2 linked regions of the Homo sapiens genome follow. The protein of the gene in region 1 interacts with the protein of each later gene in a biochemical or structural test. Each region holds a gene or a part of one and is shown in the gene's direction. Other genes may lie near its edges.

What was found.
Region 2: of the proteins of FBXO10 (region 1) and GCSAM, one has a biochemical effect on the other in vitro, tested with the Homo sapiens proteins (one study listed by BioGRID).

The regions. Positions count from the first base shown.
Region 1 is NC_000009.12:37,527,891-37,544,139, reverse strand, and holds part of FBXO10 (F-box only protein 10), read left to right. Parts: intron 1-277; exon of another isoform or gene 278-1,228; intron 1,229-2,365; coding exon of another isoform or gene 2,366-2,371; coding exon 2,372-2,956; intron 2,957-6,196; coding exon 6,197-7,030; intron 7,031-12,081; coding exon 12,082-12,231; intron 12,232-14,879; coding exon 14,880-15,016; intron 15,017-16,249. UniProt on the Homo sapiens protein: Substrate-recognition component of the SCF (SKP1-CUL1-F-box protein)-type E3 ubiquitin ligase complex. Mediates the ubiquitination and degradation of BCL2, an antiapoptotic protein, thereby playing a role in apoptosis by controlling the stability of BCL2.
Region 2 is NC_000003.12:112,129,969-112,146,895, reverse strand, and holds the start of GCSAM (germinal center-associated signaling and motility protein), read left to right. Parts: upstream 1-13,647; 5' UTR 13,648-13,775; coding exon 13,776-13,804; exon of another isoform or gene 13,805-16,368; coding exon of another isoform or gene 16,369-16,382; coding exon 16,383-16,451; exon of another isoform or gene 16,452-16,927. Other genes in the region: SLC9C1 (solute carrier family 9 member C1), read left to right, coding at 5,615-5,624. UniProt on the Homo sapiens protein: Involved in the negative regulation of lymphocyte motility. It mediates the migration-inhibitory effects of IL6. Serves as a positive regulator of the RhoA signaling pathway.

The DNA.
Region 1 (16,249 bases):
ACGCCCCCAAACCCGGCTAATTTTTTTGTATTTTTAGTAGAGGCAGGGTTTCACTGTATTAGCCAGGCTGGTCTTGAACTCCTGACCTCAAGTGATCCACCTGCCTCGGCATCCCAAAGTGCTGGGATTACAGGCACGAGCCACTGCAGCCAGCCAAATTTTTGTATTTTTTAGTAGAGGCAAAGTTTCACCATGTTGGCCAGGCTGGTCTGGAACTCCTGACCTCAAGTAATCCACCCACCTTGGCCTCCCAAAGTGCTGGGATTACAGGCGTGAGCCACCATGTCCGGCCATAGTCCTACTTTCTAGTTGTCTAGAGACTTGGGTTTCAGACTTGGAAGTTGCTCTAGGTCATCTACTTGGCCCTTTGTTTTTTAAGTGGGAAAATTGACACTCATAAATGAGAGACCTTGAACTAGGTATAAAAACAAGTAAATGAAGCCAGCTTACATCATCAGGGATATCTGATGGCATTCAAAGGGCAAGGATAAAGCTGAGCTTTGAGAATAGACTAGAGCTATGACCTGCAGTGCTATAGAGAAACTGGATGCCCCTTGCTTCTGCCCTTTTCTCTGCTTTTTTCTGTGTCTCTAATTTATTCTTTTCTCAATGTAGATCAGCTTCTTCTGTCTTGTCTCCTCCTATGCCCCAGCCTGGGGAAAATGATCACCAGAGGCTATTCCTGAGTTTATAGCTTAGAAAAGGGGCCACTCATTCCCCACCATTCAGGAATAAGGCCATCCTGATTCTAGAATTGCAACTCCTGTTCTCCTGGAAAAGGGCTCGATGGCCCCTTTAGAACCATCCAGAGTCCAATCAGTTGCAGTCAAGAGGTCGGGGATCCTTTGTTCTACATATACATCTGCTGGGAACCTTACCTCTATAATCATGTGATATAAATCACTGGTAGGGGAGAAGAAGATTTTCCAGAAAAAGCAAGTAGGTAGATGGCTGGGCAGCCAGCCCATAGGTGTTCAGAATAACCAATTAACTGCTCAGGATAACCAATGGCAGAGCCAGGACCAAAACCCACAGCATCTGACTCAGCAGTAGTCTGTCCTGGGGCTGCCCCACGTGGGGAAACAGTAATTACTTGATCTGGGAACAAGCAGAGACAGACAGATGGACAGTCACTGCCTCAGTTCTCATTCCTAATAGTGTAAAGAGATAGAGGTCTCTTCCTTGAGAGTGTAGGGGATCCAGAGCTCTAGGACCCTAACAGCCAAAGGTGGGTTCCCTCTTAGAAGTCCAGACTCTTCTAGTTGCAAGTCACAGAAGCCCAAATCAAACTAGCTTGAGCAAAAGGGGGATTTAGTAGAAGGCCATTGGGATATCCTACAAAATTGAAGGAAGAACTGTAGATTCCAAGACATCTTTAAGAATCTGGAATCAGTACTATCAGGATACACACACACATGTGCTCACCTTGTTTTCTTCCTCTTTTTAAAGGTCATCTTTCTGTTTGGCTCTTATACCAGAAGGTTTCCTCCACATGGTGGTGAACCTGGCAGTTCCGGAGTCGTATCCTTTTTTTTTTTTTTTTGAGATGGAGATTCGCTCTTGTTGCCCATGCTGGAGCGCAATGGCACGATCTGGGCTCACTGCAATCCCTGCCTCCCTGGGTTCAAGCGATTCTCCTGCCTCAGACTCCCAAGTAGCTGGGATTACAGGCATGCACCACCATGCCCGGCTAATTTTGTATTTTTCATAGAGACAGGGTTTCTCCATGTTGGTCAGGCTGGTCTTGAACTCCCAACCTCAGGTGATCCACCTGTCTCAGCCTCTCAAAGTGCTGGGATTACAGGCCTGAGCCATTGCGCCCGGCCTGGAGTCATATCTTTATAACATCTGACCATAGAGAAAAGAGAGTCTTCCTTGCTAATTCCTGGTGGAAAAATCTAGAGTAGGATTCACATTGAAAGGATGGAGTCCTCTGACTGGCTGAGCCTTGTTTATTTGCTCACCCTTGGGCTCAGGAGATGGCAGGGGGTATTTTAAGAAAGGGACTGGAGGCCGGGTGTGGTGGCTCACGCCTGTAATCCCAGCACTTTGGGAGGCCAAGCCGGGCAGATCACCTGAGGTCGGGAATTTGAGACCAGCCTGACCAACATGGAGAAACCTGGTCTCTACTAAAAATACAAAATTAGCTAGTTGTGGTAGTGCATGCCTGTAACCCCAGCTACTTGGGAGGCTGAGGCAGGAGAATTGCTTGAATCTGGGAGGTGGAGGTTATGGTGAGGCCAAGATCGCACCACTGCACTCCAGCCTGGGCAAGAAGAGTGAAACTCCATCTCAAAAAAATAAAAAAGGGGGACTGGTAAGTAGGATAGACAGAAATCTCTTTTGTTTTGTGTCTGTCTCCTAGGTGACCATGGAGGCTGGTGGCCTCCCCTTGGAGCTGTGGCGCATGATCTTAGCCTACTTGCACCTTCCCGACCTGGGCCGCTGCAGCCTGGTATGCAGGGCCTGGTATGAACTGATCCTCAGTCTCGACAGCACCCGCTGGCGGCAGCTGTGTCTGGGTTGCACCGAGTGCCGCCATCCCAATTGGCCCAACCAGCCAGATGTGGAGCCTGAGTCTTGGAGAGAAGCCTTCAAGCAGCATTACCTTGCATCCAAGACATGGACCAAGAATGCCTTGGACTTGGAGTCTTCCATCTGCTTTTCTCTATTCCGCCGGAGGAGGGAACGACGTACCCTGAGTGTTGGGCCAGGCCGTGAGTTTGACAGCCTGGGCAGTGCCTTGGCCATGGCCAGCCTGTATGACCGAATTGTGCTCTTCCCAGGTGTGTACGAAGAGCAAGGTGAAATCATCTTGAAGGTGCCTGTGGAGATTGTAGGGCAGGGGAAGTTGGGTGAAGTGGCCCTGCTGGCCAGCATTGATCAGCACTGCTCAACCACACGCCTGTGCAACCTCGTCTTCACGCCAGCCTGGTTCTCACCCATCATGTATAAGGTGGGTATCCACATCAATAGACGGCCTTTCTAGTTCTGACCCCAGAGGCTTGCCCTCTTTTCTGGGCTTTTAATCCCTTTTTTTGTTGGAATTGAAAGTTAAGAGTTATTATTATACTCATACTCCTCTGAGTGCTGAACCAGTTGAGAAACAGGCACAGTGATCAGTAGAGTTCAGAATTCTGCTTTATTCTTGGTAAAGCAGTATTTAAAAATGGCTTGGGCTTGGAACCAAAATTCTTTTGCACCTCTTCCCTTTCCAACTGGACCAACTGGAGCCACCAGTCTAGCAGCGGCGGGAAAGCCAGGTTCTGGAAGCATGCCACTTGGTGACAGGAAGCAGAGAGCCCATTAGCTGCTCATGGAGGCATGCCCAGAGTGAGAGCCACAGAGGAAAAAGGCTATACAGGACTAGTCACCTTCAGCACATGAACCCCACCCTGTGTGGGATCAAGGAAGGGCAGGCTTTTACCATGATTTGCTAGTTCTCAAGGGCAATGGTGAGAAGGTTAGAAAATATTTGTCCAACATATTCCTTCCGTGAATGCAGAGCCAGAAGATGGTTCAAAGTAAAGCAGGTATCCAGGTGTTGGTAGTTCCTGGCAGAACAGTCTATAGCTTATACATTGCCTAGAAACTTGGATTATGTAGGTAGTCAATAAAAATTATATCGCTTTCCTGCCTGCTCATAAAAAATAAAAGATTTTTGGCCAGGTGCAGTGGCTCACACCTGTAATCCCAGCACTTTGGGAGGCCGAGGCAGGTGGATCACCTGAGGTCAGGAGTTCGAGACCAACATGGTGAAACCTGTCTCTACTAAAAATACAAAATCAGCGGGGCATGGTGGCAGGTGCCTGTAATCCCAGCTACTCGGGAGGCTGAGGCAAAAGAATCGCTTGAACCCGGGAGGCGGAGGTTGCAGTGAGCTGAGATGGTGCCATCGCACTCCAGCCTGGAGGACAAGAGTGAGACTTTGTCTCAAAAAAAAAAAATCATATATATATGATTTTTAAAAGTATATTGCCAATAACAATTGTCTCTCATGTTTGTAATGATCCTTATACCACTGGTCATTTGTGACAGATGTAGTGTGTGCATGCCATATGCCTTATAGCCATTATCTCATGGGTTCCTCTCCACATGCCTCTGAGATAGGTAATGTCATCTGATTTTATAGATGAGAAAACTGAGGCTCAGCAAGATTAAGTGACATCAAGGTCTCAGACTTAGTAAGATCCAAAGTCTATTCATAATCTAGGTGACTTTCCATCTGTGACCTCATTGGACCCCCACAGCAAACATTTGTGTAGGTGAAGTAGATGTGGTATGCCTATTTTGCAAATGAGGGCTACTGAAGGTCACAGTTGGTAAGTAACTTTCTCAAGTGGGTAATTAGGGAAGTTAGATCTCAAATTCAGGCCTTCTCATCTAAATGCTTATAAAATTACATCATGCTATGTTACCTGAAAGCTTAAAAGCTTGTGTTTTAGCCCTAGAGCATTTCAGAAGAACTGATGAACTTCTCTGGTGCTGGTCTGCAGGCCCAGAAGGAGAGTTTGTTTCTAGAAAGAAATAATGTTCCAGACCCTTCACATTTTGTAATACATTTATTCTTAGAGTAATATTTTGATTTCAGCCTCTACTTCTCCCTCAGAAGTATAGTCATAGATCCTCAAGGGATGAGGCCTGGCGTTAGACTTGTTTGTAGCCTGCCCTGTGGCTTAGTGCTTAGCATATAACATATATTAGTTAGTGTTCAGTCCATGATTGTTTTTCAACTAAAGGAGACATGGGGGCCTGGGATGGCTTTGCCTGAAAAATGCAAAGGCCAAGGCGATTTCACAGCAGTTTTCAGTGACTTCTAAGGAGAACCTTAGCAGTGGCTCTGCATCTCCAGAGAGCTGGCTTTTTTATCTTTAGAGAGAAAATGGATTTAAATAGCAAGGAAAAATTAGGTTAGCCATAAGGAAGAAATTAGAAAAGTTAAGGGGGCTTAAATTCTGGGACAATCTATCAAAGGTCAATTTTAAAACTTATTCAAGGGGTAGGTACGTCTGGATTATTAAATGGAATCATGAGATACTCCCTCATTTGATGATTCAAATACATCTGATGAAATATGTATAAAATCCAGAAACAGCTCTTTTTCAGGAATAGAGAGTGAGTGGGCCTCACCAAGACTGCTTCTCAGTTGGGCCCACAGAGCCAAGGGGCCCAAATGAATTAGGCAGGAGAGTTTGGCACTGCCCCATCCCCACTCCAGACTCTTGAGGACACTCTGCTCCTTGTGTCCCTGACCCCAGATGATAATAACTGACTTTTATTGAGTGCTAAGTTTGTGCCTAGCATGGTGCTTTGTGAACTAGTGAGCCCCATGCTGCAGACAAGGAAACTGAGGCTTAAAGAGGTGAAGTCATTTGTCCAAGATAACACTTGCAGTCAACCCCCGGAGCCCATGCTTTTTTTTTTTTTTTTTGGACACCGAGTCTTGCTCTTTCGCCCAGGCTGGAGTGTACTGGCGCAATCTCGGCTCACTGCAACCTCTGCCTCCCAGGCTCAAGCTATTCTCATTCCTCAGCCTCCCAAGTAGCTGGGACTACAGGCGCACACCACCACGCCCAGCTAATTTTTGTATTTTTAGTGGAGATGAGGTTTCACCATGTTGACAAGGCTGGTCTCGAACTCCTGACCTCAAGTGATCTGCCCATCTTGGCCTTCCAACGTGCTGGAACTACGGGCGTGAGCCACCACACCTGGCAGAGCCCATGCTTTTAACCACTGTTCAATGCTTCCTGGCAATGGCAGTATACCTTGTCCCCTCTCTTTAGAGACATATTTTGCTGTGCACCACGTGCATCAGTTGCCACACAGTCAGAACTCTTTGCCAGCACATGCGGCTAGGCCTCTCTCACTGCCTGTCCTAGCCCTGGCACGTGATTGAGACTTGAGGTTTTAGGAGGAGTCATGCTGCAGTGTGAACTTTTCTGCCATCATCTACTTGTCTCCCTTCCTTTGAGATTAGAAGGATGGAGGTGCGGGCAGCTCCAGTTTCCCTCCCTCTCTGATGCAGAGCAGCTCCCCAGTTCCTTTTGGGGACAGCTGACATCCAGACCCCAGTGGGGAGGGGAAGATGATCAGCAGAACAAATGGCCTTTCCATGTTCTACCCTCCTTAAAGGGCAGCTAGAGTCCAAAACCAATCTCATCCCTCTTACAGCCGTTTTCTTCTTTTCATTCCCCAGACAACATCAGGTCACGTCCAGTTTGACAACTGCAACTTTGAGAACGGGCACATCCAGGTCCATGGCCCGGGTACTTGCCAAGTGAAGTTCTGTACCTTCAAAAACACCCATATCTTCCTGCACAACGTGCCCCTGTGTGTCCTGGAAAACTGTGAATTTGTGGGCAGTGAAAACAACTCTGTGACTGTTGAGGGTCACCCATCTGCAGATAAGAACTGGGCCTACAAGTATCTACTAGGGCTTATCAAGTCCTCACCCACTTTTCTCCCCACAGAGGACTCTGACTTTTTAATGTCCCTGGACCTAGAGAGCCGGGACCAGGCCTGGAGCCCAAAGACCTGTGACATTGTTATCGAGGGCAGCCAGAGCCCTACCAGCCCAGCCTCTAGCTCCCCAAAGCCAGGCTCCAAGGCTGGCTCACAGGAGGCAGAGGTGGGTAGTGATGGTGAAAGGGTGGCCCAGACCCCGGACAGCAGCGATGGAGGCCTGAGTCCCAGCGGTGAGGATGAAGATGAGGACCAGCTGATGTACAGACTATCCTACCAAGTGCAGGGCCCACGCCCTGTATTGGGGGGCTCATTTCTGGGCCCACCTCTACCAGGAGCATCCATTCAGCTGCCCAGCTGCCTAGTGCTGAACTCACTGCAGCAGGAGCTGCAGAAGGATAAGGAGGCCATGGCACTGGCCAACTCCGTGCAGGGCTGCCTCATCCGCAAGTGCCTCTTCCGGGACGGGAAGGGAGGCGTCTTCGTCTGCTCCCACGGCAGAGCCAAGATGGAAGGAAACATCTTCCGGAACCTGACTTACGCAGTGCGGTGTATACATAATAGCAAGGTGCTGTCATGACTTTAGATTGGTCAGGGGGCTCCTGTGGCTATATGTAGGAAGGGTTTGATGGGGCTATTTTGCATTTTAAAAATAATTTTCTTTAAACTTATTCACGCACGCTTGACGTCATGCCCATCATCTGATTTGGAAAGGACAGAAACGCTTTTTCTCATTTCCCAGAAAGAGAGGCCCAGAGAGAGAACGTGGCTTACTCAGGGTCACATAGCAAGTTAGGCAGAATTGAGACTAGAAACTCGGGTCTCCTGCCTCTTTTCACTATGTCATGCTGCTGCTCACATATCTCACCATGTCGGAGTAGGAGAAACAAAGCCTGGATAAGAGAAAATTCAGGGAGATATGATTACTACCTTCACTCCAAACTGGAGTAGGGTTGTTGAGGAAACGTCTGTGCTGGGTACAATGAGAAGAAGGTCCAGGGAAAATTGGACACGTGATAAGAAGGGGTGGAGAGTGAGGGTGTCCCAACAGCAGAAACATCCTACGCCAGAGCCTGGGTGTGAGGTTGAATTCAACCATGCGGTGGGGCTAGGTTGAAGGATGAAGCTGGGGGTGAGCAAAAGCTACCTTACCCAGACCTGGAATCCCCCTTGAGACATTTGGGCCTTATGCTAAGAACAGTCCTTCTAGCCACTGCGACAATCAACACCTTCTATGTGCTGGGACTTAGGGCACCACAGGACAATCTGCAAATCCTGTAAATGGTTGATGACAGGAAGGCCTTCTGAAGGGAAAGACAGCCCATGCAGAAGAAAGCATGGCATAGCACCTAGATTCGAGTCTCACCTCTCCACTAACTCACTATGAACATGACCTTCACTTTCGTAAAATGAAAATAAGCATCCCTATTTTTCTTCTCTCACTGGCTATTGGAAGGTCCCATGCCGGAAGTATTCAGTAAACTAAAGAACATTGTACAAAGGTCACTCATGAGTGTTGCAGGCTTCTAAAATGGTTAATAGCAATCACATTTTAATTAATTTAAATTTAATTGTGTTTTACCCAGCCCACTTCCAAAGAGGATTTCAGGTGATGTTACTTTGAAAGCATAATGCAAGACTCCTGTACACATACATAAAAGAAAATGGCCAAATAAAAAGGGAAAGGTAATAGCTTTGCTGTCGTGACTACCACGATGAAAGGATCTGGCTCAAGCCCTCAAGGAGGGCATTCTTCCTTGCATAGTTATTGAGAATATGGCTTTCTAGTTAAAGTCTGGCTCTGCCCCTTAAGTCGGCAGGGTGAAGACGCGAGGCAAAGGAGGTGTGTGTGAAGGCCCAGAAGTAAGGGGAGACACACCCTTTCACCCTTTCAAGCAAGGCCTTGATCCTTGCTCCCCCACAGAAGGCTGTCACCTGGCTCTGTCCTCTAGAACATCCCAGGAGGGTAAAGGCTGGCAGGAGGAGCCTGGTTGCTTGAGGCTCCAAGAAGAAAAGTGTCAGCCGGGTGCTGTGGCTCAAGCCTGTAATCCTAGCACTTTGGGAGGCTGAGGCGGGCAGATTGCCTGAGCTCAGGAGTTCGAGACCAGCCTGGGCAACACGGTGAAACCCCGTCTCTACTAAAATAAAATAAAAAAAAAATAGCCAGGCATGGCAGCGGGCACTTGTAGTCCCAGCTACTCGGGAGGCTGAGGCAGGAGAATTGCTTGAACCCGGGAGGTGGAGGTTGCAAGTGAAAGCCAAGATTGCGCCACTGCATTCCAGCCTGGGTGACAGAGCAAGACTCCGTCTCCAAAAAAAAAATAAAAAAAAAGAAGTGTCACCGACTGTGATTTTCTTCTTTATGTGTCATAAATTTTAGTTGGAAGTCAGATATCTCATGTAGGACAGTGGGGACTGAGCTCTGTAGTATTTAGTTTGGAAATGGGCACACCTCTTCTTTTGCCTGGCTCTTAGGAGGTCGATCTAGTTAGGAGCTGAGCCCGTTTGAATTATGGTGATGATAGGATTATCCTCAGCGTCCCGTAGGCTTCAGCTCTCTCCAGCATTACCTCGTGCTAGTTTTCTCCGCTTCAGATCTTCCTTTGTGCCTGCTGCTCAGAGGCGATCTCCGCTGCTCTCGCCCTCCCTCAGCAGTAGACTGCCATTATTTGTCACCCTACGTGATGGCAGGGTTTCTCTCTTGTCCTGGGTCATCCTTAGTCTAGGTAGGTGCTGTGTCTGTGGTCTTGAGAGCAGGACTTTTTCAGTGACCCTGGCTCTACCCCCAGCACTAGGGGACCTCTGATGATCTGGGCCTAAGTCACTTTCCTCCCAACACCCCCAGAGATAAGAGTGTTTTCCCGCTGTTTCTCTGTGCATACGGTTTGTTTTGTAAGAGAGTTAGGGGGAAAGAACACAGGAGAGGGGCTTAATGCCTCTCTCACTTTTGTCCCCAGCCTGCGTCAGGAGGGTGCTGTCTCCAGTCTCTCATCTGCCCCCAGTTTTCTCCATGAACACCTAGTGAAGGCCACAGAGAAGTGAACAGGTGCAGCTACTCCCAGAGTTTCTGCACTCACACTAATTCACAGCTGGTCTTTAACAGTGCATTGAAAATGTTAGCTGAGTTCTTACTGGCTTGTATGACACATGCAGCCCTGCATTCAGCAGGGAAGTGCTCAGGCCTCGTCTCCTTGGAGGCGCCTGTCTTTCTTTTTTTGAGACGGAGTCTCACTCTTTCACCCAGGCCGGACTGCAGTGGCACGATCTGGGCTCACTGCACGCTCCGAAAGGCACCTGTCTTTTTGTAGCATTCAGGCTAGCCGGTTGTCCAGCAGCCTCAGCTCTGATGGGTTCCACCAGAAAGTCCATGTTTGTGTATATTCTTTCTACTTTCTCCATCCTAAGCAGAAGCTGAAACCTTACCATTTATACTCTTGTTCTACTTTAGTCTTCACAGAATTTTGTCCTAATGCAATATATTATTAGTAGTACACAATTTATAATAATATATTTTATTATTAATCTATAATTGTTTAAGACAGCATAGATAAACATTCCAGATTTTTTATATATTATCATGCTTTGGTATCCGTGGGGGCTTGGTTCCAGGATACTAAAATCCACAGATGCTCAAATCCCTTATATAAAATGTTATAGTATTTGCACCTAACCTGCACACATCCTCCCACACTTCAGTCATCTCTAGATTACTTATAATACCCAATACGATGCAAATGCTATGTAAATAGCTCTTCTACTGGGTTTTTTTGTTTGTTGGTTGTGTTTTTTTTGTTTTTTTTTTTTTGAGACGGAGTCTCCACTGTTTAGCCCAGGCTGGAGTGCAAAGATGTGATCTCAGCTCACTGCAACCTCTGCCTCCTGGGTTCAAGCGATTCTCCTGCCCCAGCCTCCCAAGTAGCTGAAACTACAGGCATGAGCCACCACGCCCAGCTAATTTGTTGTATTTTTAGTAGAGATGGGGTTTCACCATGTTGGCCAGGCTGGTCTCAAACTCCTGACCTCAGGTGATCCGCCCGCCTCAGCCTCCCAAAGTGCTGGGATTACAGGCATGAGCCAACACGTCCAGCCTATACTGTTGTTGTTTTTTTTAATTCAATTTTATTTTATTTTTGAGATAAGGTCTCACTCTGTCGCCCAGGCTGGAATACAGTGGCACAATCTCGGCTCACTGCAACCTCTGCCTCCCTGATTCAAGAGATTCTCCTGCCTTAGCCTCCTGAGTAGCTGGGACTACAGGCATCTGCCACCATGCCTGGCTAGTTTTTGTATTTTTAGTAGAAACGAGGCTTCACCGTGTTGGCCAGGCTGGTCTCAAACTCCTGACCTCAAGTGATCCGCCCACCTCGGCCTCCCAAAGTGCTGAGATTACAGACGTGAGCCACCACACCTGGCCTGTTTTTCAATTTTATTATTTATTATTTTTAATAATGTATATTCAATCCACAGTTGGTTGAATCCATGGATGCAGAACCCACAGACATGGGGGAGACAACTGTACTTATTAAACATAAAAAGAAAATGTAATTGGAAATATATCCCTTTATTAGCAGGTTGCTGGTTATGGGAACTTGTTTGAAGGAGGCTTTGTTATACCAATATCTCTAATCATCCCTTCATTTGGAGTCTCAGTAGTTTTCCACCCCAGGGTGATACACCATGAAAGATTTAGGATGTGCAAGAACAGGCCTTTGTTTTATAAAGTGGAAGGGAAGGTGGGAGAGGAGAACCTGTGTGGTACCTTACTGTCCGTGCCGTCTCAGACAGGTGGATTTTAGTGAAGGTGCATTGGAAGTGGTGGACCTGGAACTTTATTTCATTAAAAGTAGCTGCACCCTCGACCCCTGGGGAAATCTTCATGCAAACTTAGTGCATGTAAAGTTTGAAGACCACTCAGTCCCATCTTCCCCTAAGCGTCCTTTCTATCCCATCATCCAGCTATGCTGCTTGCAGGTTCTGAATATAGAGCACAGGGCCAAGCTTTGGTCCAGGTTTTAGTTAAAGGACCAGTGTGGGCCAGGTGTAGTGGTTCATGCCTGTAATGCCAGCAGTTTGGGAGGCCAAGGTGGGAGGATTGCTTGAGCCCAAGAGTTCCAGACCAGCCTGGGCAACATAGTGAGATTCCATCTCTACAAAAAATAGAAAAGTTAACAACAAAATTACTCCAGCCCACATCCATAGTAAAAATAAAAATAAACAAAAATTCAAAAATTAGCCTGTAGCCCCAGCTATTTGGGAGGCTGAGGTGGGAGGATCACGTGAGCCTGGGAGGCGGAGCTTGCAGTAAGCCGAGATCATGCCACTGCACTCCAGCCTGGGCAACAGAGCAAGACCCTGTCTCAAAAAAAAAAAAAAAAAAAAAAAAGAACCAATGTGAGACCGCTAAGGAGCCTGCAGGGCAAAGCCAGGTAGGGCCTGGAGATGGCTGTGTCCTGGGAGCACACAGTGGGAGCGTGGCTGTGCCAGCATTGAGGCGTTTCTCTTGCCTACGGGGTAAACTGCATGGATCAGGTGGTGCGGAAAAGACTCAGGTGTTCCTCCAGTGGTTTCTAAAAAAATATTTGTAACAGGAAAATAAATGGCTTTCTCTTTTCTGCTTAGATCATCATGCTCAGGAACGACATTTACCGCTGCCGAGCGTCAGGCATCTTTCTTCGCTTGGAGGGCGGTGGCTTGATTGCCGGCAACAACATTTACCACAATGCAGAGGCTGGTGTAGACATCCGGAAAAAGTCCAACCCACTCATACTGGTACTTTGTGTTCGTTCCCTATTCAGGGTGACTCTTGGTTTTCAGAAACCATTTGTGAGGATATTTAAATACACGTTGCCCTCTTGTATTTACGTGCTTCCTGTTTGCAGGTGGCTCCTGCTCTGTCCTCTGCGTGTCCTTGTGACTCTGTGTCTCTGTCTGTGTATTAGCAGTGACTTTGGACAAGTCATTTTCTGGTCATCTCCCCGTTAATAAGGAGGAGGACCAGAAAGACAGGGAAACCTCACAGGGCCCTCAGCCCTCATATGCTGTGGTTGGCTTTGAGTTTGATAAGGTTAAAGAGAGTGATGTCTGCCCTAAAGACACTTGGATCCAACAACAAACAAAAACAACAGCAGCGAACCCACCAAGTTAGTTTATTCACTTGTGTAAGAGGACATTTCGGGTATTTAGTTCTGAAGATTGTTTCGTGGTTATTGTGAGGGCATATTGAGTTTGATTTTCTACCCGTGTGAAAACCACTTAAAATCCTAGACTGTGTGGCCAGTGACACGAGAGACCAGCTCCTTTTCTGCTCTGGCTCTTCCTGAGAAGCAGGTTTGGGGTTTGGGGGTTTTTTATTTTGTTTTTACACAGATTTATGGGGTATGGGAGGAATTTTGTTACATGTATACTGAGAGACAGATTTCCTAGGAGTTGGGAAATATAACAGACTTTTTATGGGCTTGAAAAAATAATAGCCACCATTAATACATAATGCTTATTATACGCCAGATGCTTTTTTAAGCACTTCATAGATATTTACTTGTCATTTAATGCTTACAGAACCCTGTGAAGAATTATTATCATCCCTATTTTATAGTAAAGATATAGAGCCTGAAGAGGCAGAGGATCCTGCCCAAAGTCCTACACCTAGTGACAGAGCTGGGATTTGAATCCAGGCAGTCTGACTCACGGGTAATGCTGAACCCATCATATCTTAACTGCCCATAAAGATACAGAGAGAAGGCTGGGCACAGTGGCTTATGCCTGTAATCTCAGCACTTTGGGAGGCCAAGGCAGGAAGATCACTTGAGTCCAGGAGTTTAAGACCAGCCTGGGCAACATAGCAAGACCCTGTCTCTACAAAAAATTATAAAAATTAGCTGGGCATGGTAGCTCACACCTGTCGTCCCAGATACTTGGGAGGCGGAGGTGGGAGGTGGGAGGATCACTTGAGTCTGGGAGGTCATGGCTGCCATAACTATGGCATGGTCATGAGCCATGATTGTGCCACTGCACTCCAGCCTGGGCAACAGAGCGAGACCCTGTCTCAAAAAAAGAAAAAGAAAATACACACAGCTAGCCAGTGTCTCCTGCCAACCCCTTCCCCTCACTGTGTTTCTACCATGCAGCTGGTGGTTGATGCATGGCTTTGGCTTAGGAAATTATTGCCCCTCTGGCTAGAGAGATGAGGGGTTTGCCCTTCTGAGGACAGAGGGATAGCAGGTGGAGGGGGAAGGGAGTGGTATATTTTAGTCCTGGCGTTGTGAAAGGGTGTAGGGATGGAAATGCTGCTGCATACTCCTTTTGGAGCTCTTCAGCCCTGTGCGGGACTTCTCTTAGGCAGTGGTTGCTCTGATGAGCCTGCCAAATCCTTCAGGAAAAATCTGGAAAGAGTAAGAATAAGGAGAGTTTGCACACGAAACACTTTAAAGCCAACTAGAACTTTATTTCTGCGAAATCATTTTGGAAGAGATACAGCTAACTTCCCAATTTACAAAGTATAGAATTGGACTTCAGCTATAAATTAACTTAGAGTGAGATAATTTTATTATTATTCTAATCTAAAAATATTAAGTCACTGTGCAAAAGCAACTAACTGGAATGGGAAAGAGAAAAACTAGATTTCAGATCTGGCTTTTCCACAAATGTACTATATAATCGTGGGCCTGTTTTCCCATTCGCACAAAGAGATATTAGAAATGAATATCTTGCCGGGTGTGGTGGCTCACACCTGTAATCCCAGCACTTTGGGAGGCCAAGATGGGAGGATCACTGGAGGCCAGGAGTTCAAGACCAGCCTGGGCAATGAAGCAAAACCCTGTCTCTACCAAAAAAAAAAAAAAAAGATATCTCTTGGCATTCTGTAGCTCATACACCTTCTAAGACCTTATGCCCCATGGGACAGCTTGGCCCCCCAGTGTCTGCATCTTCCGCTGGCCCTCCCTAAATGAGAAAGGACTAGAAGTCAAACAACTGTGACCCCTCTCTGGATGTGGCCCCTTTAGGACTGCAGTTGGCCAACATTTGGTTGCACTGGGGTGCTGCCTTTCCTCAAGAGATGGCCTCCCTGGACCCTAGAAGTTATGGCCTGGCCAAATGATTATGTGTTTAGGGGACTCATTAGAGGCTCTGAAACTTTCAGTAGCCTGCCTTGCAGGTGAAGACCAAGAGCCCTCCTAAGAGGCTGGGCAGCGAAGACTCCAGTCTTCATAGTCTCCCTTACAGGTTTTCATGTGTGTACTGGTGCAGGAAGGGCAGGGCGGCAGTGTGACCCATTCCCTTTGTCACGGGCTAGGGCTCTTACAGTGACGTCATTTTCTCCACTGTGTTCATCCTGCCGCGGAGGTGTGGGCGGCACCTGGGCACTCTGCTTCGCTGACGTGTCTGATCTGGCTTCTGTGGTGTCTCATTTTCACTTGCAGTGTAACCAGATCCACCATGGCCTTCGCTCTGGCATTGTCGTCCTTGGCAATGGGAAAGGCATCATCCGGAACAATCAAATCTTTTCCAATAAGGAGGCTGGCATTTACATCCTGTACCACGGAAACCCCGTTGTGAGGTGTGTGCTGCTGTTTCCCTCCTTCATCTTTGTTAACCTCCTCCCTGTCTCTCCTCCATTTGAAAACACTCTTTACGGAAACAACTGTACAGATGCAAGCAGAGAAGAGACTTCACTCATCATCCCACCCCAGTAACACAGCGGCTTTTGTGTTTATGTGCCCTTCCAGTGAACTCCGTGTAGGCGTTCTATTCGGCAGTCACTACTGAGCACTTCCAACATGGGCAGGCTCTGCTCCCTGGGAGCTTACTCTAGCCTGGAGAAATGGGCACAGAAGTACCCCCAGGCAGGGATGGAACAGAGATTTCAGCTCACCTAACAGTTTCAGTTACTTGCTAGTGGTGCCTGGGGGTGCTGTGTCAACATCCTGGTGCTGCACCTGGCCTCAGCACAAAAGCATGCTGTGGTCAGGGACTGATATAAGTGATAGGTGGGAGGCAGCAGTGGCAGTCCTGGGACCCTGTCTGCCATCCCAGCTCTAGTATGGGGCAGACTGTGATAAATGCTGTCAGAGTGGTACCAGAAGGAGAGACTCATTCTGACTAGGAGGATGTGGGAAGGCCTCATTTAGGAGGTAGCATCAGAGTCAGACTTTGGAATATGGGTAAGACTTGGACTCATGGAGATAGGGGTAGGGAGGGGTCGGTGGATGTTCCTAGTAATGGAACAGCATGAGCAAAGGCAGCAGGGCACAGCAGATTCAGGGGTTAGCAAACCGTTGACGGTGGCTTGAGAAAAAATCTGACATGGTGTGACAGTGCTATAGAATATTTTAAATTGGGATGGTCCCAGAATATCTTGGGCCCTGTGGTCACTGCAGTGTGACCCTTGACGTCCTTGCGGCAGACCATCTGTGCCACACAGCAGAGTGGAAAGGAATGATGGAAAGAAAGGCTTGGGCCAGATGAGGAAGGCCTTATGTAGACCAAGCTGAGGCGGGGGAGCCTATTCTGTCTACACAGCGGGGACTCATTAAAGGCTCTGAGCAGAAGACTCACACAGTTATGTCTGTGCTTTAGGAGAATAGCTGGCATTAATGGGCAGCAAGTATATTCAGAGCGCTTTCCCCCAGCATTATTCCATAGGTACTTTGTCTCCATGTTGTTGCATGCATGGCCTTTACATTCATCACTTTGGAAAGTTTCACCATATTCCAGTATTTCGATATGCCATAATTTTTGAACCAGACCTAATTGCTGGTTCAAAAATTACGGAATATAATCCTATTTTTCA
Region 2 (16,927 bases), on another chromosome or scaffold:
TCCCCACTGATAGTATTAGACAGATTGAGACAGAAAAGTAACAAAGAAATTCTGGACTTTAACTCAACACTTGGACCTAATAGACATCTACAGAATACGCCACCCATCAACCACAATGTATATTATTCTCATCCGCACACAAAAAATATTCCAAGATTGACCACATGCTCAGCCATAAAGCAAGTCTCAATCAATTCAAAAGAATCAAAATCATACCAACCATATTCTTGGACAACAGTGGAATAAAAATAGAAATGAATACCAAGAAGATCTCTCAAAACCACACAATTACATGGAAATTAAACAATTGACTTCTGAATGATGTTTGAGTAAACAATTAAATCAAGGCAAAAATCAAAAACAACTTTGAAATAAATGAAAGAGACACAACATACCAAAGTCTCTGGGATACAGCAAAACCAGTGTTAAGCATAAAGTTTATAACACTAAATGCCTACCTCAAAAGTTAGAAAGATCTCAAATTAACAATCTAATTTCACCCCTTAGGAACTAGAAAAACAAGAACAAATGAGCTACAAAGCTAGCAGAAGAAAAGAAATAACTAAAATCAGAAAAGAACTGAACAAAATTAAGACATAAAAGTCCACACAAAGAATCAATGGAAATAAAGTTGGTTTTTTGAAAGGATAAACAACATCAGTAGATCACTAGCTAGATTAAAAAAAAAAAGAAAGCTCCAAATACACACAATCAGAAATGACAAAGGTGACGTTATAACCAATCCCACAGAAATACAAAAGATCCTTGGAGACTGTTATGAACACCTCTACATACACAAACTAGAAAATGTAGAAGAAATGGTGTATCAGTCCGTTTTTCTGCTGCTGATAAAGACATACTTGAGACTGGGCAATTTACATAAGAAAGAGGTTTACTGGATTTACAGTTCCACGTGGCTGCGGAGGCCTCACAATCGTGGCAGAAGGTGAAAGACACATCTCATATAGTGGCAGACAAGAGAAGACAGCTTGGGCAGGGAAACTCCCCCTTATATAATCATCAGATCTCGTGAGACTTATTCACTATCATGAGAACAACACAGGAAAGACTTGCCCCCACGATTCATTTATCTGCCTTCGGGTCTCTCCCACAACATGTGGGAATTTAAGATGAGATTTGGGTGGAAACACAGCCAAACCATATCAAATAGGTAAATTTCTGGGACCACACAATCTCCCAAGATTGAATCAGGAAGAAATTGAAAAACTGAACAGACCAATATCAGGTTCCAAAATTGAATCCATAAAAAAGAACCTACCAACCAAAAAAAAAAAAAAAAAAAAAAGCCAAGGGCAGGTGGATTCACAGCCAAATTCTACCAGATATACAAAGAAGAGCTAGTACTAATTCTACTGAAACTATTTCAAAAAATCAATGAGAAGGAACTCCTCACTAACTCATTCTACAAAGCCAGCATCACCCTGATATCAAAACCTGGCAAAACACAATGAAAAAAGACAACTACAGGCCAATATTCCCAATCAACATAGATGTGAAAATCCTCAACAAAATTTTAGCAAATTAAATCCAGCAGCACATCAGAAAGTTAATATACCACGATCAAGTAGGCTTTATTTCTGGGATGCAAGACTGGTTCAACATCCAGCAAATCAATAACTGTGGTTCACCACATAAACAGAATCAAAAACAAAACCATATGATCATCTCCATAGACATAGAGAAAGCTTTTGATAAGATCCAACATCCCTTCATGATAAAAAGCCTCAACAGACTAGGCACTGAAGGGACACACCTCAAAATAATAGGAGCCATCAAGCTCCTATTATTTTTGGGACAAGCCCACAGCCAACATCATACTGAATAGGCAAAAGCTGGAACCATTCCCTTTGAGAACTGGAACAAGAAAAGGATGTCCACTCCCACTACTCCTATTCAACATAATACTAGAAATGCTAGCCAAAGCAATTAGGCAAAAGAAAGAAATAAAGTCATCCAAAAAAGAAAAAGAAGTCAAACTATCTCTCTTTACAGACAATATGATTTTATATTTAAAAAACCCTAAGGACTCTACCAAAAGGCTTCTGGAGGTGACAAACAACTTCAGCAAAGTTTCAGGATGCAGAATCAATGTACAAAAATCAGTAGCATTTCCATACACCAATGTTCAAGCTGAGAGCCAAGTCAAGAACACACTCCCATTTACAATATATACACACACACACAAACCTTAGGAATACATGCAACCAAGGAGGTAAAAGATTTCTATAAGGAGAATGACAAAATACTGCTGAAAGAAATCACAGATGACATAAACAAATGGAGAAACATTCCATGCTTGTGGATTAGAAGAATCAATATTGTTAAAATGGCCATACTGCCCAAAACAATCTACAGATTCAACACTATTCTTATTGAATTACCAATATAATTTTTCACAGAATTAGAAAAAAAATGGCCGGGTGTGGTGGCTCACACCTGTAATTCCAGCACTTTAGGACGCCAAGGTCAGGAGTTTGGGACCAGCCTGGCCAACATGGTGAAACCCCGTCTCTACTAAAAATACAAAAAAATAGCTGGGCTTGATGGTGGGTACCTGTAATCCCAGCTACTCAAGAGGCTGAGGCAGGAGAATTGCTTGAACCCAGGAGGCGGAGGTTGCAGTGAGCCAAGATCACACCATTGCACTCCAGCCCGGGCGACAGTGCGAGACTCTGTCTCAAAAAAAAAAAAAAAAAAAAAGCCAGGGCATCACAATACTATAAGGCATAGTAATCAAAGCAGCATGGTACTGGTACAAAAACAGACACATAGACCAATGGAACAGAATAGAGAACCTATAACTAAAGCCCCACACTTACAACCATCTAATCTTCAACAAAGTTGACAATACAAGCAATGGGGAAAGGACTCCCTATTCAATAACTGGTACTAGGATAACTGGCTAGCCATATACAGAAGAATGAAACTGAAACTATTTCATTCTTTCCCCTACCTTTCACCATATACAAAAATTCACTCAAGACAGATTAAAGATTTAAATGTAAGACCTCAAACCATAAGAATCCTAGATGAAAACCTAGGAAACACTATTCTCGACACTGGCCTTGGCAAATAATTTATGACTAAGTCTTCAAAAGCAATTGCAACAAAAACAGAAACTGACAAGTAGGACCTAATTAAACTAAAGAGCTTCTGCACAGCAGAAGAAACTATCAATAGAATAAACAGACAACCTACAGTATGGGAGAAAATATTCCCAAACTGTGCATCCAACAAAGGCCTAATTTCCAGAATCCATAAAGAACTTAAACAATTGAACAAGCAAAAAACAACCCCATTAAAAATGCATGAAAGACATAGACAGACACTTCTCAAATGAAGACGTACAAGCAGCCAGCAAACATGAAAAAGTGCTCATCATGACTAATCATTAGAGAAATGCAAATCAAAACCACAATGAGATACTACCTCACACCATTCAGAATGACTCTTACTAAAAAGACAAAAACAACAGATATGATGAAGCTGCAGAGAAAAGGAAACATGTATACACTGTTGGTGGGAATGTAAACTAGTTCAGCCACTATGAACAGTAGTTTGGAGATTTCTCAAAGAACTTAAAACAGAACTACCATTTGATGCAGCAATGGCATTACTGGAGATATATATATATATATACACAAATTATTCTACCAAAAAGACACATGCACTTGCATGTTCATCGTAGCACCACTTACAATAAATAGCAAAGACATGGAATCAACCTAGGTGCTCATCAGTGGTGGGTTGAATAAAGAAAATGTGGTACATATATGCCATGAAATACTATACAGCCATAAAAAAGACCCAAATCCTGTCCTTTGCAGCAATATGGATGCAGCTGAAACCCATTATCCTAAGCAAATTAACACAAGAAAAGAAAACCAAATATTGCATGTTCTCACCTGTAAGTGGGAACTAAACATTGGGTACTCATGGATATAAAGATGGCAACATTAGACCCTGGGGATTTCTACAGAGGGCAGGGAGGGAGGGGTCAAGGGTTGAAAAACTAACTACTGGGTACTATGCTCAGTACCTGGGTGATGGAATCATTTGAATCCTAAGCCCAGCATCACGCAATATACCCAGGTAACAAACTTGCACATGTATCCCTGGAATCTAAAATAAAAATTGGAAAGAAAAGGATTTTTTTTTATTATTGCCCAAAGAATACTTTCATATATTATCAGAAGATATTCTCTTTTTTGTATATTGAATTTAAGTCAGAATGATTTAGGTAATGTTTAATGCATTGATCTCTTTTACCTCAAAAAAGTAATACTGTCATAGAAAGCAGAAGGAAATACAAGGAGGTGCTGGAGATTGATAATCTTCTTGGCAGGAGGACACCCAAGTCAGCAGTTTCTTATATAATCCTATAATAATAAAAGCAGTTCAAGAATGGTCCAAAAAAAGAATTAATTGCTTACAATAAGATCAATATCTTTACTTTGGACTAATGTGTACAACATGATTAGGAAAACACTGTAATTTCAACAGGCAAACTTATGAATAAGCAATTCAAGTAAAAGACAATACCTAACAATGGAGAAAATAGTAATCTAAGAAATGCAGAATTTAAAAAAAATTATTAACATTTGCTTTTTTAATTGACAACTTTTTTATTCATTGGTAACATCTATTTCCTTTGAAACAGAAGAGGAAATAGATGAAAACTGAGGGATATTGGTTTTCTCATATTTTGCTGGTAGAAGAGTAAAAACAACTTGTAACAAAGTTATAAGAATGCTCACACACTTTGAATTAGTGATTATGCTTCTAGGGATTAATCCAAAGTAAATTATTCTTACAGTAAATGTGTACAAAACGTCCAAGGCACTACTACTTCTAATGACGAAAGAGCCCAAGTGTCTAACAACGAGATTGTCTACAGAACATCCATATGAGGAAATATTGTGCAACCATTAAAAGGGTTGGTTGTATAGATCAATGTAAAATATGAAGAGGAAGGCAAAATATGCAACATACAATATATATACATCTTTCAACATGAAAAGGGTCTAGAAAAGATCAATACAAGTTATTTAATTATGGAATTAGAAGGATGAGAATAGGAGTGGTTTTGATCACTTCTCTTATTTTATGCAGTTCTATTGATTTTATAATAAAAAGCATGATTATGAAACTATTAAACATTATTGAAATATAAATTATGTGAAAGTTATTTATTTCTTCTTAACACCCTTTACGTTCAGCAATACTGGTTTGATGAAGGGGGTTTTTATAGTCAGAACTGAAGCTCAATGAGTGGTAATGGATTAAGTCAATGCTTCTCACAATGGACAATCCTCCTCCTGACAATCCATAAACTATGCCTGTTCATTTTAGCACGCTTCAGTGGCTTCTCAGACTCTGACTCCTAGGTTAAATCATTCTGCCACCACTCTATGAGTGACAAGGGATTCACACTCACTTGCTCAATTTCCTTCCTTGGCCTTAACAAAAATGACCAAGTGTGTCTTATGGGAGTCAAATTGACCCTCTAGTACATCCTATTCTGGGTTGTAAGTCAATATTGAAAGATTCAAAAGCCCTCTATGTTTTTGTTTTTTCTTTCCGCTTCTATTAGGAAAGAGTAAGACTGTTAAGAAGACCGAAGCATGTATTAATGCTGTGGCTATGAGAGGCCTCCTGCTGCAGAAACACACTTCCCTACATCAAGAAGGAGTAACTTCAGGTTGGATCCTGTGTGGATGATCTTGGTGCTAAGCAGAAAAGAAATTTGGACCTTGAAACCAGCAGTTCAACATATATACTTTTTGCAAAATTTCCTTGATTTAAAATATTTGTTATTTTAAATATACAAAACATTTTAGAAAATCTTAGAGTAAATTTTAGTCTTAAAGCCAGAAAATAAGTTTATAGCCATCTAGATATTTTGCATATTGCTCTTACAGCAATAATGGTTTGGTTCACTTTATGAAAAATAAAATGTATTAAAATATAGTTTAAATGCTGTTCTTGATCCAAGTATTGATTTTTGTCACTCATTGTACTTCACTCATCTCGGTAGCTCTCAGAGAATTATAATAGTGAGGAATGAAAACTGATTCAGACTGAATCAGGCAACTTAGCCCTGAGTGAAACTTTCAGTAATCACTTTATTCACCATTATACTCACAGCAACAAGCACAATGCCTAGTATGTAATTTTAGATAATAGTCTTAACAGTGAAGAATTAGTGCATGCTTTCTGTATGTTAGGCATACAACACATGCCATACAGTTATGATGAACTCATTTTGTAACAATCATATAAGGTAAGTACAATTATTCCCAATTTATGAATGAGTAAACTGAAAATCTTACAACTAGGAAGAGGCAGAGCAGAGATTTGAAAACAAGTTATAACACATATCCCCCTAATATGGTAAGCCCTAAATAGATATCTGAAGAATTAATAAAAATTTAGCTTGCAGTGAGCTGAGATAGCACCACTGCAGTCTGGCCCGGGTGAAAGAGCAAGACTCCATCTCCAAAAAAAAAAAAATATATATTTAAAGATAAGTCTTCAGAGTCAGACTTCCACCTGGGGGTCTAGAAATCTGAATGCTATGCCAAATAACTGGTGGTGGGCACATTTTAGAAGCCAAGTATGGCAACTCCTGTCACAAAAGTGTCCTTGTGGAAAAGACAACTTGGTTTGTTTCTGTTGACAAAGTCAAATCAAACTGCTACCACTTCTCTCCAAAACTAACCTTAACCAGTTTTTTCCCAGTGATAATTACCTGACAGCTGTTAAGTGTTTAAGGAACCCCATTAATGAGTACCCCTCCTCTCCTGAGTTCTGAACCAACTGAAAATTATGATAAAGGGTTAAAGCAGATAGAGATTAAAACATTCACAAGCTCACCATTATTACTGATGGAGCTGACATTAGATAAGGTGGTTGCCTTCTTTTCCCTAGAACTGAAAAGATTGACTGCTGTAGGCATTTGTCATTAAGCTTAATGCATAGCTGAGAACAGTAGAAAATGCAAGATTTCTAAGAGTAAATTTACTCCAAAAAGTATCAAGAAGAAGGGGATTAACACAGAATGTCCAGGCTCTACTTCCAAATACATCAACCAAATAAACCACCGCACTTCAGTAGAACAAATGAGAAAATGAAGATGGGCAGCAATATAAAGGCAATGGAGATTTCAGCCCTTGATCTAGAGCAAGGACCTAGAGAGGGAAGAAGTGTTCTCCACCAACAGTAGCTGTTACTTACAGAGAGCCTAATGTTACTTACAGAGAGCCTAATGTGTCTTCTGATACGCTATTCTGAGTGCTTTTCCCTCATTAGCTTATGCAGTCATCATATGAATTTTGGGAGGTACTTACCATCATTAGTCCCATTTTGCCAAGGAAGTAATGGGGCTTAGAGCACACAAATAAATTGCTCAAAGTCACACAGCTAGGCATGATGACATGGATTTAAATCCTCCAAGCACAATCAGTGTAATGCTTTTTAAGTTATTTAGATTTTATCATGGAAATTTAAGCCATTGAAGAAGTATTGCATACACTCCATTATATTAGTTATTGTCAATGTCATGGACTAGGTTTGTGTACTGGATTGTAAACATCTCCCTGTGGGAAAAGGCCACTACACAAGACACTGGAATATAAAATCCTGGTACCATGCATGATGTATATAACCAGCCTCATCTTCAGGGCATGGTGGGTTGTGTGCCTAGGGCTCTGTTTTTACCTGAAAGAATGTAATGTACAGACTTTGGCTGAGGAAGGTTCTTAGAGCTCACTTTCATTTGGCTCTTCAGAGGAAAGCTGTTTATTTGCTTACAATGCCCAGAATATTGTCTGCTTTTAAAATTTTTATATAAAAGGCTTTCCTTGGTCTGTTGACCCTTGAATATTTTTGTAATTTAGCTTTATTCTTTAACTTTTATAATGCTTAAACCTGGTTTGTACTTTTTCTGCAGATATTTGACTTATCTTCCATGTTCTATATTAGTTTTACTAATGAAAAACAGGAAACTTTGCAAATGAAGAAACATTCTTCCCAAGGGTCATTTATTCTCAGAGAAGTGCTGTCCCACCCTCCTGGTGGTTACAGCTAGGAGAGCATTCCCAGTGAACTGAAAAAGTTCCCATTCTGTTTCTAGGCAATCATCTCTGGATTACCATGGCTCCTGCAAAGCCAATGGAGCTATGTGCTGAAATCTCTTCACCACAAAGCAAAAGTCTAACCCCAACGTTCACCTAGAGAGTTACTGAAACTCTGTTATCTCCTCTTTAAAACAAAATATTTTTTATATGGAATAGCAGCAATTAATAGTTACAGTTTTCAAACACACAACTATCTGACATTAGCTAGGACCACTAATCAGCTCATATTCTGTATCACAAAGTATATAGGTAGAAAGTTCTATTCAGGAAGATTCCTCAGTACTCTCTCACCATGCAGCCTTTGCCCTCTTTTAAAGGGAAGCAGAATAGGGAAGTCTTAACTAAGCTATTTGACTCCTGGTTCTGTAAGAAATCTTAAATAAACCACTTCTTTTCCCAAAATAAAATGCCCCAAAATAATTTTCTTTCTGTATAATTAGTTCTCCTAATTCCCTTCCCTCATTTCACCATTGCCAGAAAGTGACTGGGCTTGGGCTAGGGCTAGGGCTAGAATTATCCCATCTAGGCCTTTGAAACTGCAGGAGTATCTAGAATCACTCTTATCACTCACTCTTACCCTAAAGGTCTCTAACGTGCCTTGTGCTGAGGCCAGCCCAGATTGTGAAAACTGCGTAAGAACTGGGAAGCCTTGACACACTACATGCAAATATACTGCTCCTTATTGACACATTGGAGTGATGTAGACCAGGTTTCAAAGTCAAGCTAAGACGTCTTTCTATGAGTACTTATTAAATAGGACAACAAATAGATATATCCACACCCCGTTTGAACTTATATCTTAGCTCTGTCACTTCCTATTGGGATATCCTTGAGCAAGTCACTTGAGCCTGGTGTTCTCATCTACAACAAAGAGGAAATGGTATTTATTCCACAGAATTCTTACATGAAGAAATTAGAAATTGTATCTAAAGCATTTAACAGAATTACTGGATTATTAGAAAGCTCTCAACAAATACTTATTGTAATTATACTTTTCTATGATCTTCAAAGGATATAGCAAAACAGTCATTGGTCATTAATTCTTTACAGCAATGCCAAAGGATAGGAAAGTAAATTTAAAGATCTCAACCCAAACGTTCTCTGATTTCCCTATCATCTGCTTACAAATATCCAGGCTTTTATTTCCAATTCAACACATACGGTTTCTTACATGTGTTAGAAATGTAGTTTCTTACACGTGTTAGGCACTGGAGTTAAACACTGAGAAGAATAAAGAGTGAATCTATGATTCAAAGATTTGTTATCTGGGCTTCTTTGTGTGGGGGTGTGTTGCTCTACTCATTTACGGAGAGGAGATATATTATTTATAGTCCAGAGTCAGTTTTACAGCAGTAAATCTATTATAAATATCCTGCTCTTTCATGCTACTTTACACAAGTGATTGATAGCTAACACTTCCACAGCTCAGCTTCTCCATCTAGCGGCCTGAGTAAAACAGAAGCTTGAAAGCAATTCCTAACCTTCCCCTAAATTACAATGGGCAGATTGATTTCCAACTCACCCTACCATGGCTCTCTGGACTCAAAGACTCTTTTAGACAATAGTGGAACTAATTAAGCCACACATGGAGCAGCATCCAGGCTGTGTCTGCTCAGGCTGCCCCAACTAGGGTCTAGGATCTGTTCATTCATACTGGTGGGAAGTCAACAATAGCCCTACTCACTGGCTAAGCACCCTGTCCATGTGGTCTCTCTTTCACAATGCTAAGACATTCTGGTCCCCTGCTGCTAGCCTCTAGGTAGTGCAAAATGTGCTGAGGCCACTGAGGAAGGGGCACTTTTAGGTTAGATTGATTGTTTTTCTTTTTTTCTGAAGGTAATAGGGAAGAGAGAGGTTAGTTATAATAGTATACCAAGATTCCTTCCGACTCCCACACATACATACCTCTTTTTCTCGTACACAAAATGGCAGACCACTGGTTGTCATCCCAGATTTTCCATACACAAGGAAGAAGCATTCAATAATTTGGAACACATACTCTATTTTTTATTGTAATTATCCAGCCTGGGAAAGGAAATGGTTTTGAAAGAGGAGAATAGGAGAAACAGACAAGGGTACCCCCAGGTTTCTTAGATCTATATGCTGTGGAAACCTGATTTTCAATATAAGCTTTGTTAAGAATATTCTTTTTTACTTCAATGCTTCATTTAATTTATTGATGGGAGGGTTTTCCTGAATTTCAAATATTTACAGAATAAGAAAATTTACCACCCTAACATCTTTCCTAGAGTCAATTACATGAGGGATTCATGAAAAAAATTAATGGAGCTACTATTGGGGAAATAGAATTAAAAGCAAAATCTCCTGCTATTTCAGAAAACCTCACCACAAAAATAGAAGAGAAAGAAAACACTTTTATTTCTGAATATTCAACCAGAATGTAATGCACACCACAGGCAATCCCCTAAAGAGATTACTAAAACAGAAAGAAATCTTCCCCTTTTATATGCCAAGAAGATATCCTCCACTGCACACATTTTCTCAAGACAAACAATGACTAGTATTCACATAAGAGGACTTGACAGCACCATTTGTCACATAGCGTTTATCTGAAATTATTTTTGTAATATATTTGCTAATTGCCCTTAAAAACTAATTTCTCATTTCTTTTTGGTTGGAGGTAGATTTGCAATTTGGAGTCAGGTGTCAACTGAAGTTAGACTCCAGAAAATTGTATTCTGGAATACTTGAGCATGGAGACTGCACATGGACATTAGGGTGTGTGCTCTGAGATAAACGAAAGCTACAGTGAGAGAACATAACCAATCCCAAAGATAATTTCAAAGAACAATGACAGCAAAGGTTAGGTGGGAGTAGTATTTGACAATGCTTATTTGATATTGTCTCTCAGAGCTGCAAACTAGATTATACAAGTCATTAGCGTCAGATAGCTTTAAAGTTGTGACCTTCCTTTACATGAATTTTCTAGCCAGTTTCCTATCCTTTGCAAGAGGTAACAAAACATGAAACCCTAGAATGTGTGAGTTCAGGCATTAGGTATATAATAAGGAGGCTCTCTGTCCAGGGCTGCTTTCTGTCTTGCAGGGGCTAGTGAGTCTTGTGTGTTTTTATTTTATTCTCACATTTGTGTTTTTTTAGAAAAGTGAATGATCAATAATGGCTTATCTTTTATAATAAAATCTTCCATTTTTAATAAGGTGCTCCTGGAAATCCCTCACAGAGCCAAAAGGAAGTTTGGAGAGCAGCCATAAGGATAAGAATGATGTGAGATGAATCTGGGGTTGCACAGCTAGTACCCTAGTTTCTCTGAAATTGTTTCTTCTAAGCCCACTCCCCATCCTTCTCCTGCCTGTTTTAGATATGACCTTTACATTACTCAAGGACAAGCAATAAAATATTTTGCACTTTGTTTTATTTCTTTCAAGGAACTTCACAAGAGCAGTCCTGTATCTGCTTTTCTTACCATTGAACCTACAGTGCCCAGCACATAGTAGGCACTCGACACATACTTGTTAAAGGAATGAACAAACAGATGAGTGACCAAACTGGAAACAACCATCAAATACAAGGATAATACAAAAATCCATGATTCCTGTCCCGAGATTTCTTTCTTTTTTAACCTTTTGTCTGTTGAGATTCATTTATGTGCAGTGAAGTGCACCCTTATTAGTATACAGTTCTGTGAATTATGAGAAATGCATACAGTCATGTGGGCACTAACACAATCAAGATAAAGAACAACAACAAAAAATTTCCTCCTGTGCTTTGAAAGTCAACACCTCCCCCACCTTTTGCTCCTGGCAACACTAATATGTTTTCTGTTCCTGTGGTTTCACCTTATCTCTAATGTCACAGAAGGTAGGCTTTAAGTCTGGTCTCTTTCACTTAGTGTAATGCATTTGAGATTGATCCAAGTTATTGCATGTATTAATAGTCCACTCCTTTTCAATGATGGTCAGGATTCTGTTGTGTGGATGTAATATAACACAGAGCTTATTTAGCAATTCACTCAATGAAGATCAGTTGGGCTATTTCCAGGGTATTTCGGCTATTATGAGTAAAGCACATATAAAAATTTGTACACACAGTCTTAGAGGACATAAGTTTCACTTGGCTAAATGCCTAGGAGTGAAATTGCCAGGTTGTACAGTAACCCTATGTTCAATTTTATAAGAAATTGCCATACTTCTGAGATGGGAGAGTTCCCTTGACCCCTTCTCGGGACTTGCGACAGGGGTGTGGCCTACTTACTTGGCCACCACCATGCTCAAACTCTCTGTGGGAGCGGGAGCACGCAGGCAAGCGGGTGCCAGGGCTTCGATGAGCACTTTTGGGCTCCAGCCCAACAGCAGCATTTAGGGATGTGTTACAATTCATGCTCTTTTAGCAGTTGCCATCCGTGGACAGCTAAGTGTTAACCCACTCAATGGAGAGTCAGGGTGGCAGCCTTTTACACCCTGCCCTGTTGGTACCCAGGTTCTTGTTCAGCATCCAGGAAGAATCAGGTTGCATGAATGGTTTGAAAGTTGATGGATGTGGACGATTTTATTAAATGGTGGAAGTGGCTCTCAGTGGAAGGGGAGCTGCAAAGGGGATGGTGCAGGAAGAAAGTGACCTTTCCCTGAAGTCTGCTGTCTCTGGCCGGGCTCCTCCCTGAAGTCATGCCACCTGAAGTTAAGCCACATCTCTGACACTCAGTTGCTTCTTCTCCTCTTGATGTTCAGCCGCTTGTCTGTCTGCCAGCTGAGGTCTGGGGTTTATATGGGCACGGGATAGGGGGGCTGGACAGGCTAAAGAGTAACATTTGGGCAGGATAACAGGGATAACTGTTCTCATTTAGGGCTTCGGTTTCAAGGCTTGAGGGTGGGACCTTTGCCAGTGAACCACCCTCTTCTACCCAGTAAAGCCCTGCCTTCTGTCCTTATCACTTCTTTCCAAAAAGGCTGTCATTTTGCATTCTCATCAGCAATGCATGAGACTTCCAGTTGCTTTGCATACCTTGCCATACTTGATATTGTCAGGGTTTTATAGCCATTGTAATAAGTATGTAAAAGTGTTCCATTGTGGATTTGATTTACACTTCCCTAATAACTACAATGTTTAGCATCTTTTAATGTTCATCTGTATAGTTCCTTTGGTGAAATGTCTGTTCAAATATTTTGCCCATTTTGTTACTGGGTGTTTGTTTTCAGATTTGAGAGTTGTTGATACTATATTTTCTACAGGTCTGTGGCTTGACTGTTTTAACCTCCTTCTGACTTTTCTAAGAAGACAACGTGATTTATAAACGTAAATATCTGTAGTGGAAAAACTCCCATGGCCCATCTGTAATTTCAGACCTGGGATTCCCCAGAGGTTCGAAGCTCTCATTGACGGGTAGTTGCTGGTTATGGCCAACAGCCAGGTTGGTTCAGGCACTGACATGTTAGGACATTCTGCACATGCGTGCCTCTAACACTCCTCCCCCAGCCTCTTCCTTCCCTCTGCAGAGACACCCTTCTCCTTTCTGCTGTCTCTGCACGGGTGGCCAGAGCCACACAGCCCTTTCTTTAAGTCAGGAGTTGCCCTGTCAGAGCACAAGGCAAGAAGGAAGTGGTAAAGGGACGGAGGGGAAGCCCTGAGAGGACTGAGAGGATGGGAAATTCTCTGCTGAGAGAAAACAGGTAAGTCTAGACTCCCTGTGGGAGAGCAGAGGAGATGGGACAGGACAATACAGCAAGGAAGAGAAAAAGAAAGCTAGTATACAGTTAGCACACTAAGTTGGGGTAGAAAGTAGTTGGGTAAGGAAACTGCCAAGCCTTCAGTGCCTACTCTGTGCCAGATACCACATTAAATTTCCCATAGGTTTTGCCTTCTCCCAAGAATCATGGTGAGCAGCTGATGGAGAATAGCTGAAAGGTGGAAAGACTTTACCAAGGAAGGTCTATATAATAGGTTACCACCTAAGAAATGAAACAACTTTCTGAAAGCCCGGGAAGGAGATGCTCTCCTGAGCTCCTCATGCTCCACAAGGAGGTCAAAATCACCACCCTCTTTCAGCCACTATTTTAAGTTTGAAATAAACAGCAAGCTTCCTGCCACCTTGAGTCTTCCTTTGATGTGCACTCCCTGCAAGCAGGTAAGCAGAGGTCATCTAGATTAAATAGGCACAGAACTCAGATTTACTTTCTGGACCTCAGCCTCTTTATTTTAAGTAGAAATAATAATACAATATCTACCTTAGAGAGTTCTAGTGTGTATTGTGCTAGCATAGTGCCTGACATAAAGTAGGGTTCAAAATTAGAAGATATTTTCTGCTTTCTTTTTCTGACCATCATCTTCCTTAATATCAAAGCCGTGCCACCAAAATAGTGCCACCACAGACAAGGTAATCTCTAGGGTATAAAGTGGGGTGATCTAGAGAGAGTAAGCGAGCCAGAGGGGGTCTTCACAGGGTTATGTTTGGAATCCCTGGTCTCAGTTCATGCTACTGGAGAGTGGAACACAGGAAAAAATGGTAGCCCACTTTTGACCACTTGCCGAAAAGAGGATTGGTGGTCCTGTGGAATATCTCATGTCCCTTCCTAAGAATCATGTTGTCTGAGACTTCTCTACCCTGGGTTGTCACAGCCCCTTGTCAATCTTCTACTCTAGCATTGTTCTAACAATTATATAAATTACTATTTTTATTACTAGATATGAGATGCTCAAATGTAGTGATTGTTTCTTATTTATCTTTGAATTCCTGGTTCCTGGCATTGTTTCTGGCATATCACGTGCACTGAATAAGTGCAAAAAAACTTTAAAAAAATTTTTTTACTTTAAAATTTTGTTTTATGTAAGAAAAAAAACCTTTTTCCAAGGTGCACACATCTTATGCTATTTGGACTTCTTATGGTTTTTTATTTATTTTAAAGAAAATTCGATTTTAAATCTAGAAAGCTTTTTGGTTTCTGCCATTGCATTCATGCTTAAAATTCTTTGCTCTTCCTAAGATAAGACAAATCAACTCACATAAGTTTTGATTTTGTTATTTTACATTTGGCAACATATATTCAATATATGGTGTCAGATGTAAATTTTTTTCCAAATAGTTGATCAGTTTGCCCAACATCTTTATTTCTATGATGATTTAAAAGGTCTCCCTTGAACCAAGTGCAGTGGCATGCACCTGTAGTCCCAGCTACTCAGGAGGCTGAGGCAGGAGGATTGCTTGAGCCCAGGAGTTTGAGGGCAGCCTGAACAACATAGCAAGACCCAGTCTTAAAAATAAATTCATTAAAATAATTAAATAAAATGTTTCCGTTAACGTATTCAAAAGTCTTGTATATATTGGTATCTAATTTTCATTGTCACCCCAACACCCAGTTATCATCTAGTCAGCATACCCCCCCAACCGTGTCTCTCCAGATCAAATAAGCTAAGAAGTCAGGGAAATTTTGCACAGAATAGAATGGCACTCATCCCTTCATGAGAGGAGCTCAGTCTCAGAGGAAGAGACCTGCCAGCAGCAAACCCAGCTTTTCCCCCTTAGTGGCTGTGGATCCTCAGACCAGTTGCCTAGCATTTTGGGCCTCAGTTTCCTCATTAGTATAAAAAATATAATGATAATATCTATCTTATGGATTTATTCTGGGATTAAATGAAATATAACACACAAAATGATTGGCATATAGTAAGTAGTGTTTAAGTGTTAGTTTCTTTATCCTCATACTCCCAATTCCCAACAAGTGGGAAGATGGGTATACAGAAATCTAACCCAAACAATGAACCAATTTATTTTCTTTATTCAATCCTTTTCTTCTCCTTCTGTCCCTTGTTCTGGGCCTCCATGCTTTCTGTGAAAGATGGTGTGATTTACACAAGACAAAGCCAGTACCTTTCCCCATTACTTGTGCATAGCTCCTGGAACTGCACCAAAGAGATGGTAGCTGAGGACCTCAGGCCTCTCTCTGGACACGGATACTCTCAAGGGTCATGACGAGGATCCCTGGATATTTGGGATCAGATGATTTAGGATCACTTGTTCATGGAGGTTGGAGAACATCAGTGGGCTGTTGCTGTGGCAATGGAGAGCATGTCAGATCAAAGGTAGCTTGCGACATGTGCTTGAGGAAACAGTATTAACATGTGTGAGGGCAACCAGTCAATTTCTGAGTTACACACAAATAGCAGAAATGAGGAAAGTCGGAAAAATTATGAAAAGAAGTGACAGGCCTGTTTAGGAAATACTTAGCCTGTTTCTGATATGTTGAGTTTCAGGCGGCAGCAGAACACTCAAGAGATGCCTTGGAATGTGAGAATGCAAAGCCCCAAACAGAGAACATCCAGGTGAGAGCAAAATCAACCAAACACCCCCCAGACCTTGCCCAAGGAGAACGAAGTATGTCAAGCCCTGGACTTCACATCCCAGTGAGAGAGGGCCCTGTTTAGACCAGTAGCAGTTGCAATAGTAACAAATGTGAAGACAGGACAAAAGATAAAATGCTTGAAAACTTTGGACAGGAGATATGCTACTTTGCTAGAAGCCTAATGTAACTCCTAGCAACAGGAACTAAGACCCTGCTAGTCCCTGTTATGCCCTGTTATAAAATAAAAGGTCTTATTTCCTGTTGTCATTTTGTTTGTCTATCTCAGGTACCTTTGTGCTCAACCTCCACCCTAGCCATTTTATTTTAAGCTATAGGTGTCTATTTCTGAAGTGACCACATGCCCCATGTTACGACAATTTTTAGAAAGTTTGTGGAGACACCATTGTGATTGCCCTGATGTTGTTAAACAAAGACCACCTCATTAATTCTTTTTGA